Linked DNA regions of Homo sapiens. The protein of the gene in region 2 interacts with the protein of the main gene of each other region in a pairwise test. Each region holds a gene or a part of one and is shown on either strand. Other genes may lie near its edges.

The links. Proteins that work in one complex are often made in the same cells at the same time.
Region 1: the proteins of MEGF10 (region 2) and RANBP10 interact in a two-hybrid assay, tested with the Homo sapiens proteins (one study listed by BioGRID and IntAct).

The regions. Positions count from the first base shown.
Region 1 is NC_000016.10:67,733,020-67,741,189, reverse strand, and holds part of RANBP10 (ran-binding protein 10), read left to right. Parts: intron 1-3,154; coding exon 3,155-3,177; intron 3,178-6,147; coding exon 6,148-6,332; intron 6,333-6,390; exon of another isoform or gene 6,391-6,641; coding exon of another isoform or gene 6,642-6,949; intron 6,950-8,170. UniProt on the Homo sapiens protein: May act as an adapter protein to couple membrane receptors to intracellular signaling pathways.
Region 2 is NC_000005.10:127,433,037-127,441,206, forward strand, and holds part of MEGF10 (multiple epidermal growth factor-like domains protein 10 isoform a precursor), read left to right. Parts: intron 1-326; coding exon 327-473; intron 474-1,650; coding exon 1,651-1,785; intron 1,786-2,324; coding exon 2,325-2,453; intron 2,454-5,402; coding exon 5,403-5,531; intron 5,532-7,702; coding exon 7,703-7,831; intron 7,832-8,170. UniProt on the Homo sapiens protein: Membrane receptor involved in phagocytosis by macrophages and astrocytes of apoptotic cells. Receptor for C1q, an eat-me signal, that binds phosphatidylserine expressed on the surface of apoptotic cells. Cooperates with ABCA1 within the process of engulfment.

The DNA.
Region 1 (8,170 bases), on a different chromosome or scaffold from region 2:
AGACCTTAGGGTTCATGAAGTAGCTTTCACAGAATGTCTCATTTTCTCCCTTTTTCCTTGAAGTCGAGATATCGATATTATCTCTTTTTTTCAGATGAGCTCAGAGAGGTTGGGTTACTTGCCAAAGGTCACACTATATATAATTTACGGAGCTTGGACTCCCTTTTTCCAGGCTTCTTGGGGACTCCTCCATGAGCCCTGGAGTAAGCAATATCCTGGCCATGCTGAGATCCATGAGGGCAGCTCCGGGGCAGGCCTGGAGGGTGGACATTGGGGTCTTCTCCTGGGTACAGAGAGATTTCCAGATTCAGTCCTGCCAGCATGCCAGAGTCATGCCGACTGTGCATGTGGGGCCCAAAAGTGGCTTCAGACAGGCAGACCATGCGGCTTATGAGCGTCCCTCAGTGAGAAGCAAACAAAATAGCCGAACAAAGAATATAAACCATCTCTCTGCATCTTGGTTTTTTCATATGTGAACTAGTGTCAGAGGTAGTATACATCTTCCAAGGTTGTTCTGAGGATTGAATAGTGCCTTATAAGACACTCAGTCCAGTGCCCAGCATAGAGGAAGCATGTGGTATGTGCTGGCTGGCATGATTCCGGCCAGGTTTCTGGGAGACCTGTTGTCAGACCCAAAATAGAATAGACCCTGTTCTATTTTGCAGGGCTTCAGTTTCTTTTCTGGGCAGGGGTTGGATAGCAGACTGGAGATCTCTAAGGAATCAGCAGTTTGAAAACCTCAAAGGCCAAAAGCTCAGGAGCTTCTGGGAGATATAAGACTTTATCTGCCGGGCATGATGGCTCACGACTGTAATCCCAGCACTTTGGGAGGCTGAGACAGGCAGATCATGAGGTCAGGAGATCGAGACCATCTGGCTAACACGGTGAAACCCCGTCTCCACTAAAAATACAAAAAAAAATTAGCTGGGCATGATGGCGGGCACTTGTAGTCCCAGCTACTTGGGAGGCTGAGGCGGGAGAATGGCGTGAACCCGGGAGGCGGAGCTTGCAGTGAGCTGAGATCACACCACTGCATTCCAGCCTAGGGGACAGAGCAAGACTCCGTCTCAGGGAAAAAAAAAAAAAAAAAAGTGTGAACCTGGGAGGCGGAGCTTGCAGTGAGCCGAGATCACGCCACTGCACTCCAGCCTGGGCGACAGAACTAGACTCCGTCTCAAAAAAAAAAAAGACTTTATCTAAAAAATGAGAGGGCTTTGAGTCCTTGGAGAGCCTCCACTGGTCCTGAGTCATTTGTCATTTCTCAGTTTGAAGAACATGGGTGCTCTGGTAGCCTGCTTATATAGTTGTGGTCCCACTCCCCTCTACCCTCACTTCCAATTCAGAGCTGAGGTCCCTAGAAATGCAGCCACTTCTCTTGGCAGGAGGGTTTTTGACAGGCTGTTTTTTGTTTTTGTTTTTTTGGGACAGGGTCTTGCTCTGGCACCCAAGCTGGAACCCAGTGGCACAATCATACTAGCTCACTGCAGCCTCAACCTGCAGGGCTCAAGTGGTCCTCCTGCCTCAGCCTCCCAAGTCGCTGGGACCACAGCTAATTTTATATATTTTGTAGAGACGGAGCCTCGCTATGTTGCCCATGCTGGTCTTGAACTTCTGTTCTCAAGAGATCCTTCCACACAGGCCATTGTTAACCTGAACTTTGCCAGCTTGGAACCTCTGAGGACTCTGACTGCGTATGGACTGGAGATAGGCAGCTGCCACCCTCCCTGTTTCCACTTCTCTGTCAGCTTGGGGATGACATTGAAGCATTGGACTAGGAACAAATCCAGCCCCACCACCTTTGCTAGCTTTATGACTACTGGCAAATTGTCGAACCTCTGAGGCTTATTTTTCTCCTTTGTAAAATGCAATAAGCCTGCTTCCCAGAGTTGGTGTGAGGATCAGATGAAGTAATGGATGGAAAAGGGGCGAGGTGCGGTAGCTCACACCTGTAATCCCAGCACTTTGGGAGGCCGAGGTGGGCAGATCACTTGAGGTCAGGAGTTCAAGACCAGCCTGGCCAACATGGTGAAACCCTGTCTCTACCAAAAATACAAAAATATATATTAGCCGGGCATGGTGGTATGTGCCTGTAGTCCCAGCTACTCGGGAGGCTGAGGCAGGAGAATTGCTTGAACTCGGGAAGCAGAGGTTGAAGTGAGCCAAGATTGTGCTACTGCACTCCAGCCTGGGCGACAGAGTGAGGCCCTTCTCCAAAAAAGGATCTGGCATGCACAATAAGTTTCCATAAATATGTGTTAAATCAAGAGAAGTATCAGGTCTGAAGGGCCGCAGGGGATAGATCTTTTGGATTTAGTTCCCCTTAGCAGGCTTTCTTTGCGGGTGGAGGAGCTATGCACCTGCCTAAGCATCTGATTTCACTTCTGGCCAGGCCGCCAGTGAAGAGAAGGCCATGGTCTAATTAAAACTACCTAGCCCGGGGCCGGGCTCAGTGGCTCACGCCTGTAATCCCAGCACTTTGGGAAGCTGAGGTGGGCAGACCACAAGGTCAGGAGATCGAGACCATCCTGGCTAACATGGTGAAACCCCGTCTCTACTAAAAATAGAAAAAATTGGCCTGGCGTGGTGGTGGGCGCCTGTATTCCCAGCTACTCGGGAGGCTGAGGTAGGAGAATGGCGTGAACCGGGGAGGCAGAGCTTGCAGTGAGCCGAGATCGCACCACTGCACTCCAGCCTGGGCGACAGAGTGAGACTGCATCTCAAAAAACAAAAACAAAAACAAAAAAACCTTCCCAGCTGGACACAGTAGCTCATGCCTGTAATCCTAGCACTTTGGGAGGCTGAGGCGGGCAGATCACTTGAGGTCAGGGGTTCAAGACCAGCCTGGCCAACATGGTGAAACCCTGTCTCTACTAAAAATACAAAAATTAGCCAGGCGTGGTGGTGGGCACCTGTAATCTCAGCTACTGGGGAGGCTGAGGCCAGAGAATTGCTTGAACCAGGAGGCAGAGGTTGCAGTGAGCCAAGATCGTACCACTGCACTCCAGCCTGGGCTACGGAGGGAGACTCTGTCTCAAAACAACAACAACAAACCAAAAAAAACAACTACCCGGCCCTAGCACTGGCTCCACCATGGGGTGCAGAGGCAGAGTAGCCCCAGGGGCTGGCCCTGATGACTGTTCCTTTCCCCCCACAGGTATAGCCTTCACAGACCTCCCGGTGAGTACTACTATTGAGTCTTCCCCTCCTGGGTTTCTGGGGGCTGACTGGGATGGGGCACGGTGGTACCTGCAAGTGCAGGGTGTGGAGTCTGGTTCTTTCCCCAACCAGGGATGTGTGCCATGCTGTCAGCTTGAGGGTACCAGGAGGGGCACTTGCTGGCCTTCCTCTCTCTCCAGCAGTAAGGTCTGGTCTTCCTACGACTCTTAGCAGGTGACAGTAATTTGTGGCACTTCCAAAGGCAGCTGTGGGGCTGGGGCGGGTAGGGTGGTGGAATGAAGATAGCTCCATGGCTCAACTGGTCTAAACCAGCTGTGTGTCAGCTGGGGTGCAGAGTGTAGGGAATTGTTCCTGAACTGTGAGGGAACCTAGTCCTTGTACATACCCATCAGAGATCCCTGAGGAAAGTTAGTGCCCTAGGGGAACTCATCTGCTACTATCTAGGGCACCCCCAAGCCAGAGAGGTGAGCTTTGTGGGGTCTTCTCTTCTTAGAAAAGGATGGAGTTTTCTGGCCGGGTGCGGTGGCTCACACCTGTAATCCCAGCACTTTGGGAGGCCGAGGTGGGCAAATCACGAGGTCAGGAGATCAAGATCGTCCTGGCTAACAGGGTGAAACCCTGTCTCTACTAAAAATACAAAAAAAGTTAGCCGGGCCTGGTTGCAGGCGCCTGTAGTCCCAGCTCCTCGGGAGGCTGAGGCAGGAGAATGGCCTGAACCCGGGAGGCAGAGTTTGCAGTGAGCTGAGATCGCACCACTGCACTTCAGCCTGGGCGACAGAGCGAGCCTCCGTCTCAAAAAAAAAAAAAAAAAAAAAAAAAAGAAAAGGATGGAGTTTTCTGCTTGCTTAGTTCAAAAAAAAAAAAAAACAGAAAAGGATGGAGTTTTCTGCTTGCTTAGTTCAGGGCATATCCTCACCTCCAGCCATCCCGCACCTGTACTCCAGTCTCTATTATGAGTCATCACAGGCCTAATCACATGCAGGGCCTCCACCCAGGATGCTGGGAGCCTGGCCTGGCTCTGTGTGTTCTGGTTAGGTTCTGGAAGGAAGGAAGGTTTGCTGACTCTGGTGGCTGCTTTGGGATCCCAAACACCCCAGTGATGCCCCAGGAAATGCCTTTGTGATCTTATGGGCCTCTGAAGCCCAGACCATAGCACCCAGGGTCCTGTTAAAACCTCCAGTCCATGGCTCAGAATCCTTCCCTCTTACCTGGAAGCCCCAGAGAGGGGCTGTGGTCCTAGGCAAAGAGAACAGAATCAGGTGGAGAATGCTGACCCTGGCTAGGGAAGGGTCTAGTTATGGGGACGTGACATGAAATGACCAGGCATGAGCATGGCCAGTATGCAGCCACATGCAAGAAGGTATGGGGGAAAGACATGGTAGGCAGTGACGGTCAGGAAGGCTTGCTGGAGGAGGCGGGCCTTGCCTGTGGTGGAGGATGGTAGGGGAAAGAAAGGAAGCGAGAGGTCCTCTGTGTGCAGAGCCCATGGTGGGCTGAAGCCAGCATACAGGAAAAGGTCCCATACCTTGTGCAGGTACAAAAATGCATGGTTGGCCAGGCGCGCTGGCTCACGCTTGTGATCCTAGCACTTTGGGAGGCTGAGGTGGGCAGATCACCTGAGGTTGGGAGTTCAAGACCAGCCTGACCAACATGGAGAAACCCCATCTCTGCTAAAAATACAAAATTAGCCGGGCGTGGTGGCGCATGCCTGTAATCCCAGCTACTCAGGAGGCTGAGGCAAGAGAATTGCTTGAACCCAGGAGGTAGAAGTTGCGGTGAGCTGAAATCGCGCCATTGCACTCCAGCCTGGGCAACAAGAGCGAAACTCCGTCTCAAAAAAAAAAAAGTGCATGATACTCAGGAAGGAACATGGCCTGAGCACGGAGGTGAAGGGTGGACTGAGGGCCCTGGGAAGACCATCTGCAGTGACAGTGGGGAGGAGGCTAGCGAGGCTCTGGACAGTTGCAGTGGGGAGCCACAGGAACCACCAAGTGAGGGAGGGACCGAACAAAAGCCAGTCATGGTAGAGGCTAGGTGGAAAGCAGGGAGCCTCACACCCTACTGGCCAGAAGATCCTCTTAGCGAGCCTCTAACAGGAAGGGTAGCTTCTCTTCACCCTTTGCCAGCACCAGGGGTCTAGACCACCGGTTCCCTTTTGCCATGTTCCCCTCCTCCCTCCTTTCCTGCGTCATCCCATCTCTGCCTACCCCCCATGTATCTATCTTTTGGTTTGTTTTTTTTTTTTCTTTCTGAGACAGGGACTCACTCTTGTCACCAAGGCTGGGTTGCAGTGGCAGAATCACAGCTTACTGCAGCCTCAATTTCCTGGACTCAAGCCATCTTCCCACCTCAGCCTCCCGAGTAGCTGGGACCACAGGTGCATACCACCACACCTGGCTAATTTTTATCTTTTTATTTTTTGTAGAGACAGGGTCTCACTTTGTTGCCCAGACTGGTCTTGAAAACCTGGGCTCAAGCGATCCTCCTAAATTGGCCTCCCAAAGTGCTGGGATTACAGGCATGAGCCACTGTGCCCAGCCTCATGTGTCTTATTTTTTTTGAGACAGAGAGATCCTTGGCCCTGGATCTTTCCAAGAGGAGCCATGACCCACTATTGCAGCAGACCTTCATGGGCACGTCTGAAGGGTCGTGGAGCCCAGCCCATTTCTGTATGCTTTGGCTGAGTTCCAGAAAGGGCTCTTGGGCCTTGAGGACACAATGGCCTCTGATACAGGGCAGGACACTCTCCATGATGTGCCTTGCTTGCTTTTCTTTTGCTTTCTCCCCTCAAGCTTTGGGGCATAATGTCTCTGCTAGGGAGGTGGACAGAGGTGGCTCCGCCCTGCCTCCTCCAGCCTTGCTGCAACTCTCCCAGCCCAAGCATGGGCCAGCAGCAGCCATGGAGGTGAGGTGAGGCCTTAGAACCCCACTGCCCTCAGGGCCTGACTGACATTTCATTCTCCTCCTCAGGCCAACCTCTACCCCACCGTAGGCCTGCAGACACCTGGGGAGATTGTGGACGCCAACTTTGGGCAGCAGCCCTTCCTGTTTGACATTGAGGACTACATGCGGGAGTGGCGTGCCAAGGTCCAGGGCACGGTCCACTGCTTCCCCATCAGTGCCCGGCTTGGCGAGTGGCAGGCAGTGCTGCAGAAGTGAGTGCCCTGCTCCTGCCCTTACCCACTCCCACCCCACCCCAGCCCACTTCACTCTAGGCCCCTGTAGGGCTACAAGCTGTTCTTACAAATTCCAGCGGGTGGATCCTTTCTGGGAAGCATTCCCAGGGCCATTCAGCCTGCAGCTCTCCTGCTTCTCTGTCGTCGGATGGACAGCTCCCACCGAGTTCTCCGGGCTGCTCCTAATTAAACCTTTGCCTCTCAGCCATATTGGAGGCTCCTGTATATAAGATCACCAGCAGGGCTGTTTTCCTTCCCCAGGTCATTTTGCAGAGGATTTTGCAGAGGATGCCCTGTGGTCTCTTCCTCTGTGGACCCTTTTTCTACCATAGGGAGTATCCATGGTGCTGTGACTCTGGCCTGAGGCCACCTCACAGGGCCCAGCATCCAACTGAGTCTCATTCGTCTATAGCGGTGGTGGAGGGAAGGGAGTTCTCCCTAGGACCAGCTGAGCTAGCTCCTTGGCTGATTAATTCCCAGACTGTCCTGGAAGCCAGTGTCGCTGAACTCCCAAGGGAGGCCAGCTTTGGGTTTCTCTTCCACTTGCCATCTGCAAGCCTGAGTGAGGCAGTGACCAGTATCCACTCTGCCAGGAGGTGGGTGTTAGCTTGGCTCTCAAGGATGGGCAGATGGGCATGGGGAAGGGCTGGGCTTCCACTGCCTGTGGTCATTGCCCTGCAAAGGCACCAGGGTGCTAGGATTCCTGGGGTGGGGTTGGGGTACACACTGAGTTCTTTGTGCAGCCTTTGTCCCTTGAGGCAGGCCCCAAGGATGGGCTGAGGCAGGGGCTAGGTGGCCAGACCTTCCCCAGGAAAAACAGCATTGCTGCCTCTTGTTCACAGCCCCCCAGAGCAGATGACAAGGACTTCCTTGGATGGCCAGGACAGCGCCACTCCCAGAGCAGGCTTGGTGGGATTGCCAAGAAGAGGGGTGAAGATGCCAAGTCTGTGTAGGGGAGGAACTGATACTCTCAGTTTTCAGGGCCTAGGCTCAGCACATGGATGTGTTTTTGTTTTGGGGTTTTTAAAAAAATACTGAGATGGGGTCGCACTTTGTTGCCCAGGTTGGACTCCTGGGCTCAAGTGATCCTCCCACCTCAGCCTCCTGAGTAGCTGGCATCACAGGCATGTGCTACCATGTCCAGCATAGCACATAGGTGTTTTTGTTTACATGTGTGTATCCATGTGCTTGTATGTGTTCATATGTAGCATTTGCCAAGACCTGCATATAATTTGTGTACTGTGGTTTTACATAACTTCATTTAATGAATATTGATAATGGCTATGTTATCACAGAGACAAATTTGTCACAAGCCTTTTGGCTGGCTTCCTCTAGTGGAAGGTCAGGTAATTCCTTCTCTTTTACTTGTGTAGGTAACCCTCTTGTAGATAAAGACTTTTTCATATTTACCCTTGTGTTTATAATAATAATATGGTGTAATAATAATAATTATACTTACTTTACTTTTTTCTGAGTCAGGAGTTTACTCTATTGCCCAGGCGGAGTGCAGTGACACAGTCATGGCTCACTGCAGCATGGACCTCCTGAGCTCAAGCAATTCTTCTACCTCAGTCTCCTGAGTAGCTGGGACTGTAGGCATGCACCACCACACCTGGCTAATTTTTTGTATTTTTTGTGGGGACAGGGTTTCGCCATGTTGCCCAGGTTGGTCTCAAACTTCTGGGCTCAAGTGATTTTCCTGCCTCGGCCTCCCAAAGTGTTGAGATTACAGGCATGAGCCACCACACGCAGCCAATAATTTTTTTTTTTTTTTTTTTTTTTTGAGATGGAGTCTCGCTTTGTCGCCCAGGCTGTAG
Region 2 (8,170 bases):
GCTAAAAGATATCGTATTGTTGATAAATTTTACTTGCAATAGACAGAGCCCTTGGGCTTCCACTTTATTGCCTCCTCCTGAAGAAGAAAAATCAATATAACAAAAGTTTGTTATTCGTTCTTCATGACTCCATAGAAAATCGGTCTGGGTATTATTTTAATGTTATGATACTGTGTATTGATGTTTATAAGATGGTAACTCTCCATTCATTGCTGCTGGTGATCCTCAGGTTTAACACTGTGAGCTTAGTCCTCATCTATGAATTAGCATCTGCGGAAACTCCGCACTGCCTCTCACTCAGCCTTGCCCCATGTGCATTATTTCAGGTGTCCACTGTGACAGCGTGTGTGCTGAGGGACGCTGGGGCCCCAACTGCTCCCTGCCCTGCTACTGTAAAAATGGGGCTTCATGCTCCCCTGATGATGGCATCTGCGAGTGTGCACCAGGCTTCCGAGGCACCACTTGTCAGAGGAGTAAGTGTCTCATTAGGCAGTAATTTCCACCTTCCCTTCCCTGGGCACCATGTATCGAATAATGATCTCTGTCCCACCTCTCAGTTTATAGTGATGTCCTGTTGCAGTTGAAGGCAAAAGAGAGTGTAATGGTTCACTTGTCCTTTGCAGAACTGTGTTCCCTAAGAGCTTCATTCTTTCCAGCCTTCAGAACTAACCTAACAGATGGGGATTTAACCATTTCTTCTCAATAATTACTTCATTGCCTCATTGGCACAACCATCAGGATATATTTCTTCACCCTTCCTGAAAGCTTTGGAATGGTGTTCTAGAAATTCACTGACCTGTAAATATGTTATTCAGCAGTTTGGCATTGGCCTTACCTCAATTACCAGACGTCAACATCAGCCAAACCTTGAGGCAAATCATTCATCCTGCTAGTAGTCTTAAAATCAGTGCTATGGGGAAAATGGAATTGCAAAGTTGAAAAAGGAGACTGTTGACATTGGTCCTTAAGACTTCTGAGTTAGAAGATTAAGTAATCTTTTAGTAAATGCAATCAAAAAAGAATATGTAACTAATTATAAGTTATACTATTCTAATTTTTTAAATTGCCTTTCCCCCCATAAGAATTCTATGCAGTTATCATATATTTAAATCTGAATAGTATCTTGGCAAGAACTTAAGTATATAGCATTTTGGTTAATCACTTTTCGATTACAGTCATTAACCTGGACCATTTTGAGGAGGAAAAATCTTCAAATTTTGACTGTTGATCGATTTTTATTGCCAGAAACGACTCTTAAAGAATAAAGAATCAACAAATGGTTTGAGAGTACTTATTTGAGACTTATTAGTATTTCAATTTTTTTATCTCTTTATTTATTCAATGAAAATTCCTGGAGCCCTGCTTTATGCCAAGACTTGAGCTAACTGGGGCCTTAAATGGGAAAATAAAGAAGACTAAGACATTTGCTTGCTCTCAAGAAACTCAGAGTTTAGTGGCTTCTTTTCCTCATTAAAGGGTTCCTTTGTTCCTTTGTTGTTCTTGTTTTCTACTTGGAAAATTCTCCGTATCTTTTTTACTTTTTTTTAAGGTTTTGCTTTTTAACCTCTAAAACTTTAACTAGATCCCGATCTGGAATGCGAGACAAACGCATCTCAGAAGGATAACTGCTGATTTCCCTTCTGTTTTCAGTCTGCTCCCCTGGTTTTTATGGGCATCGCTGCAGCCAGACATGCCCACAGTGCGTTCACAGCAGCGGGCCCTGCCACCACATCACCGGCCTGTGTGACTGCTTGCCTGGCTTCACAGGCGCCCTCTGCAATGAAGGTAAGGCACGAAGCATCCCGGACAGCTGGGTGGTGATGAGCACGCCCCGGAGAGTCTGTCCTCAGGCCTCCCCTTGGCCTTCCTGAAGGCCATGTTTTCAGCTGTCTGCTGGGAATGTCTTCTGCTGTGCTGTGTCTGCAGCTTCTCAGATAGGACTTTGAGCTTTGGAAAAGCTGGCTTGCCACTCCAGCAAAACCTTTTTATTTCCTGAGATGTGCTACTCTTCAGTTTTAGCTGGACATGTCCTCCCATAAAAAATCAATATGCGGAAGAATTTTAGACTCCCAGAGCAAGAAGTCGTGAAGTCATATTTCTAGAAGTGCAATGATGTCCCCTGGTTTGTGATGCCTTAATGCAAATCTTTGGCTTCATGGATTTGTAAAAATGAGCCCATTCAAGATGAAGGATGCTGTTGAGCAGAGATAGCTACCAATGAGCAGCTGGGCCTGTGACCTTTAAAGTTATTTCCTGTGCTAAGATTCTAGGGTTCTGCGAGAGGGGTTTTGATTGTGAGTTACTGACCTATAGCTTATTCACAGTGTGTCCCAGTGGCAGATTTGGGAAAAACTGTGCAGGAATTTGTACCTGCACCAACAACGGAACCTGTAACCCCATTGACAGATCTTGTCAGTGTTACCCCGGTTGGATTGGCAGTGACTGCTCTCAACGTAAGTCTTGTTTGAGAACAATTAATAAACTGTTCTTATTTGTTTGTTTTCAGATTCTTTAGGATTGAAGTATGAGTGTTTTTATATAATCAAGAAAGAATATATGACTAATTAAAAGACACATTCTACTTTAAATTCTTTTTTTAAAATTCTTTTTTTTTTTCCCATTACGACCTCTATGCAATGGTCCTATGTTTAAATCCAAATAATGTCTTGGAAAGAACCTAAATATGTAACATTTTCCTTATCCCCTTTTCAGTGATTCATCGTCCATTGAAATAAAGCAAAAACAGCTGTATTGAGAAATCTATCTCTTCATTTTGTGTTTATCTGGAGAGTTAATTACAGAGAAAGAAAAAATGGAATTAAATGATGTGAGCCTTAGAAACCTATTGGGAACCTGAGCGAACTGCCCACCTAATATGCTTAGCTTCACCTTGGCATCACCCAAGTGCCTTCCACACCACTGGATTTCAGACAGGAATTGTGTGACCCTATAAGGGACTATATAGATGACTCTTAGAGCACCCATGTCATGAAAAAAATGACATCGACTATAAGTCATTCATGAATGTTTTGAAAGGGTCAGTGCAATGTCTAAAAGTATTCAACTTTTGACCAAAAAATAGCATATGTATGGAGTAATCTGGTTTCATTCATTTTAAATTTTATGAAACACTCTCAGTTTATATTGAATTCCCCCATCATGCACATAAGAGAAATCAAAGAATGACTGTGTGCAGTCATTTTACATGGTGCTTTATTGATAATTTAATTCAAACTTCACAGTTACAAGCAACCTGCAAATACTAATTGATGAGCAATATATTTTTTGCTGGAAGATTTTTTTCTGAATGTTAATTTTTTCCATAAGTAGTCCAGGCTGTACCCCATTTTTTAGGAATAAGGGAAGAGAGCTAATAAATCTCAGAAGTGTAGCTCTTTGGTGAAAGAAGTGTTATGCGATATGATTTCACTCCATTCTGGGGGCATCACTTCAGAAGAAATCAGTCTGTTTAAATCTACATGTGTTGCAAGGGCTCTGACTGATGGTTGGGCGTATGGGTTTGGGAAGAGTAAAAGGTCCAATATCATTGTCACAAAATGATTGATTTATATTGCTCCTTTAAAAAGTAGTCTTTATTTTGGAAATTTGTCCCTTCCTCATTTGGAGGAGGAATGTGCTGAAAGGAATAAAAATAGAAACACAACTATGAATGGAGACTATAGTGTTGCCTGTCCCAATAATCACTCCACAGGAAGCTGACTTATTTGGCAAAAGCCTTTGCTTCTCCTGGGGATCATTGATTTCATTGATTCCCTTATGGACTCTGTGGAACCATCTTCATATTTCTTCTTAGCTGATTGTGAGCCTGTCTAAAGAGAGCAAAGTCCTTCACAGTGAAAACACAGACTTTGAAAACTTAAAGGGGTACATTTAAAGGGGCAGGTGTCCTTGGGAAAATGATTTTTTAAAGCACTATCTCTACGTTTACCTTTTGGGAATATAAAGTTGAGTGATGCTTATTCCCATTCTCTGATCATAACAAATATAGGGAGAAAAACCTAATGGCAGTGGGTTACCTCAGAAAAATATATTGTGAACATAAATGGGTTTACAGAAGCTGGTTAAATATCATCTAAGGAATAGGTTGTTTTAGGTAAAGAGTGCTTCACTGAGCATCAAATGGGCTAGACGCTTCAACAGTTTTCACTGAGTCTCACTGTGGCTTTGGGAAAGCTGTATTTGTCTAACAAATAACAAATATTATTATTAATCTATGTGACCTTGTACGAGTCACTATTAACCTTTTGTGTGCTCAGTTTCTTCATCTGTAAAATTAAGGTGTTGTATTTAGAAAATTTGTTCCAATGCTCACTCGAGACCTCAAGTGTCAGCTAGTATTTTCCCCTTGCTCTTGGACATGGTGCACACAATTATGGAAGAATTTTTTTCATTTAAAAAGTTACTTCATATGTATTATTGATTGTCTTTATAGGTCCACATTCCCTATGGGGTAGCCGTATAGAAATTACAGGTGGTCCTCCTTTTATGCAATTATGTTCCTAAAGTATTAATATGAATAAAAAGTATTTTTTGTCAATGAAATTATTTTACCCCCTGATCTTATGCTATTATTTCACAGATACTTTATCTGACTTTCTGATGTCTCTTCAATCGGCAGTGACCCCTAATGATTTAATTGTATTATTTTCTGGATCTTCCAGTTAAGAGTTTTTACAAGGAAACCAATTTTTACATACCGCTGGGAACCTCAATATTTAAAAGGAGCCTGAAGTGGCAACTCTAGAGTAGACTGAAGGGTACAGGATTTAGAAATTGTGAACATGAGCTACATGGCCTTGGGTCCTTTAACCTCTCTTGAGTCAAGTCATTTTCCACACCTTATCTCTGCTCAAATGTCCTCTCCTCACAGAGGCCTTCCTCAGAGGAGTAGCTCCCAAAATTATTGTCTTCCTTATCCTCCTTATGTTTTTTCATAATACCTACCACCATTGATTTTTCATTTTGTTGGTTGGTTGGTTGGTTTGCCTGCCTCCCCTACCAAAATAGAAGCTTCCAGAGGATGGTTTGGACTTTGTCTTATACTCTGCTATCTCCCTTGGGCCTGGAACAGTGTTGGGTACATAATAGGTGTTGAATATGTGTTTGTTTAATAACTGAATCTGTAAACTTGAGGTGATTTTTGCCCCAGCCACCTCACTCTGCAGTTGTAAATGAATACATATGTCAATAATGACAGTCGTTGTTGAAGTTGCCATGGCCATCTGGGATTTAGTGCAGAATTCAGAGCAGTGTGCTTTCTTAGTCCTGATGTACACTGCTAACCTCTCACATGCAGGGAGATGTGTAGAGGTGGATGGAATTCTCCCTACTTAGTATTGGCCTCAGAACTCTGATGGACTTCTCCATACCTGTAATTTCAGCATGTCCACCTGCCCACTGGGGCCCAAACTGCATCCACACGTGCAACTGCCATAATGGAGCTTTCTGCAGCGCCTACGATGGGGAATGTAAATGCACTCCTGGCTGGACAGGGCTCTACTGCACTCAGAGTAAGTGACAAGCCTTCTGAGGCTCACCAAGGGGAGCCTTGTCCAAGGAGGAAACAGCCTTACCCTCCGCATGCGTGACTGGAGCTCAACAAAGGTCCCTGAGGTTGGAGTACTTCCCTCTCCTAATGACCTGTAGACATATAAATTTCTCTAAGTGATTAAGAGCTACTTCATTCCAAGTATTCTGTCTCTAGGTTCTATCTCCACTGAGGTAGAGCAATGCTGTGTGATGGTATGCAGTTTATTTCTCTTCTCTCCTTTAACCAAATCATATTTATATGGATCAAATTCTCAATCCTTTAACAGCACAAAAGTTAGGATAAGTATAGAGATTAGAAAGGTAGAGAAGACAACAAGCCTCACTGCCTGATTTAATGTGCGCTCTTGGAAAAGGTGGAGTTCCGTGTTTTTCGAATGGTAGCAAGCTTCAGAATCACCTGGAGGACACAACAAACACAGAAGCTAGTTCCATCCCCAGAAAGCCGGAAGCAGCGAGTCTGGGCTGGCACCTGAGAATTGCCATTTTTATCAACTGGTAGTAATGCCAGGCTGGGACCATGCTTTGAGAGCCACTGCCCTAGTTCTTTTCCCCATTTTGTAATTCATAGCATCCTAACCATTTTTTCTTCCATTAGGCTTTTAGCATGATAGGATATAGTGTGCAAAGTACTTACTCCAAAGCTGAGCATCATTGGGGAAGGAAGATCATTCTCTGACCTCTTACCTTCGGTTGAATAAAGGAGACAAGAAAGGAAGGCATGTGTTATGGTTAAGTACTAATAATAGCGTATATTTTAAAATAATAGCAAGAAGCTGAGGAGGACAGATGGGTCTGAAATTGAGCAATTCTTATTTAATACTAATTAGAGTACATAATTAAAGAATAGGCTGAAAAAGTCTTAGAAACTTTCTAGAAGATAATGTAGACCTTGAACCAAGAGTTGAAAAGGATAATTGGCAAGGAAGGTAGCTGGCCCAAGCATATTCTTCAGAGTTCGTATATCTATAAATATTGTTTAACTTCTTAGAGAAAGGTACTTGTAAGATATTATTTATAATTCTAAAATTAGAACGTGCTTCAAAGAGAGAACCCTTTTTCAAGTGCAAGTAACATGATATAGTGGGAACAACATGGGGTCCAGAGCCAGACCTCCCTGTGTTTGAATCATGGCCCTGCCGTCCTGCCAGTTGCCAGCTGTGTGACTTAGGGTACTTGGGGCTTAGTTCCTGTCTACAAGACGGGAATATCCATCCCTGCATTTCTGGCCTGCTGTAAAGATTAAACAAGAGAACGCATGAAAAGAATCTGGCACAGAGTAGGTGCTAAATAAATGCATGACAGCAGGGAGTCATCGGTGCATACTGGCATCTGGGCACTGCCTCTGCTTCTTGAAAGTTCCATAAGAAAATGAGAAAATGAAAAGCATATGTAATATTTGGAAACAATCATTGAATCAGCCTGCATTGAATCTTTCATCACGCCAGAGATCCCCAAGACACTCTTGCAGGGCAGCTGCCAGCCCATGTAAGCCAACAGAATTTGTGGGTGTCTTTAGCTCAAGAGACTCGCCGGTCTAAGCATTGAAAATCATGCAGCAGTGTGAAGGGTTATTGCTTTTTACAAAGCACCTGTGAAGTACAATTGTTTTTTAAGGTAAGCATTCTAGTACACCTCTTCAGGGAAGTTGATATTATCTAAGATAATAACAGATACAGTGGACAAGGCTAGTAGCAACAATAGAGATGTTCTGTACTACAAGTAAAAGCATACAGGTAATTTTAATATAAAGTACCCGTCTCAGTCCATTGGAATTTGAGTCCAGGATTCTAGTAGAAATGTGAAAGAATGAAAGGAAATGTCCTATTCTTCCAGGATTGAAGGGATATTTTGTTAGAAGGCACTAGTCTTGCCTCCAGGGGTACCAGTGATGGTTACACTGACAGGAATGGAACTCTTCTGCCTCCTGCTTATGAATTACAACCTCCTTGCAAGAGCCCTGTCTTGGGACTTCAAAGAAGCTCTTGTGGCAAGCTCAGATATGTACTATTCACTGTATTCTCTGATGGCTCAGTGTCATTCAAGTTTAAACACAAATATGTTGGAGGCACGAGCCTCCAAGTGTTTCTCTTCAGCAGCCTCTTGACTCCTACTGTCCTCCCTCCTCCCACAGGATGTCCTCTAGGGTTTTATGGAAAAGATTGTGCACTGATATGCCAATGTCAAAACGGAGCTGACTGCGACCACATTTCTGGGCAGTGTACTTGCCGCACTGGATTCATGGGACGGCACTGTGAGCAGAGTAAGTATGAGAGTGTGGCATCACTGGGTGGTATTTTTTTCCTCTAGAATCACATTTCCTAGATGCCAGGAAATATTAAGGCAGAATTCACCACTCCGAGGTTGTTTGAGCTGATGGCTGGTTACTTCTCAGCATGACTGACTTCCCCTCCCAGAGGTCAGGCCTCCCTGGGATCATCGCTGGTTACTCACTGCTCTGGGCGGAGGAGGTGTGACTACAAGAATGAAGACAGAATTCAAGTTTTCCATTCTGTTCTTTTGGGCTCTCCCTTCCTCTCCTTCTTATTTTTGGAATGTGGCTGCTCAGAGCCTTAAAAGATCCAGTCGAGCTTTCTTCATG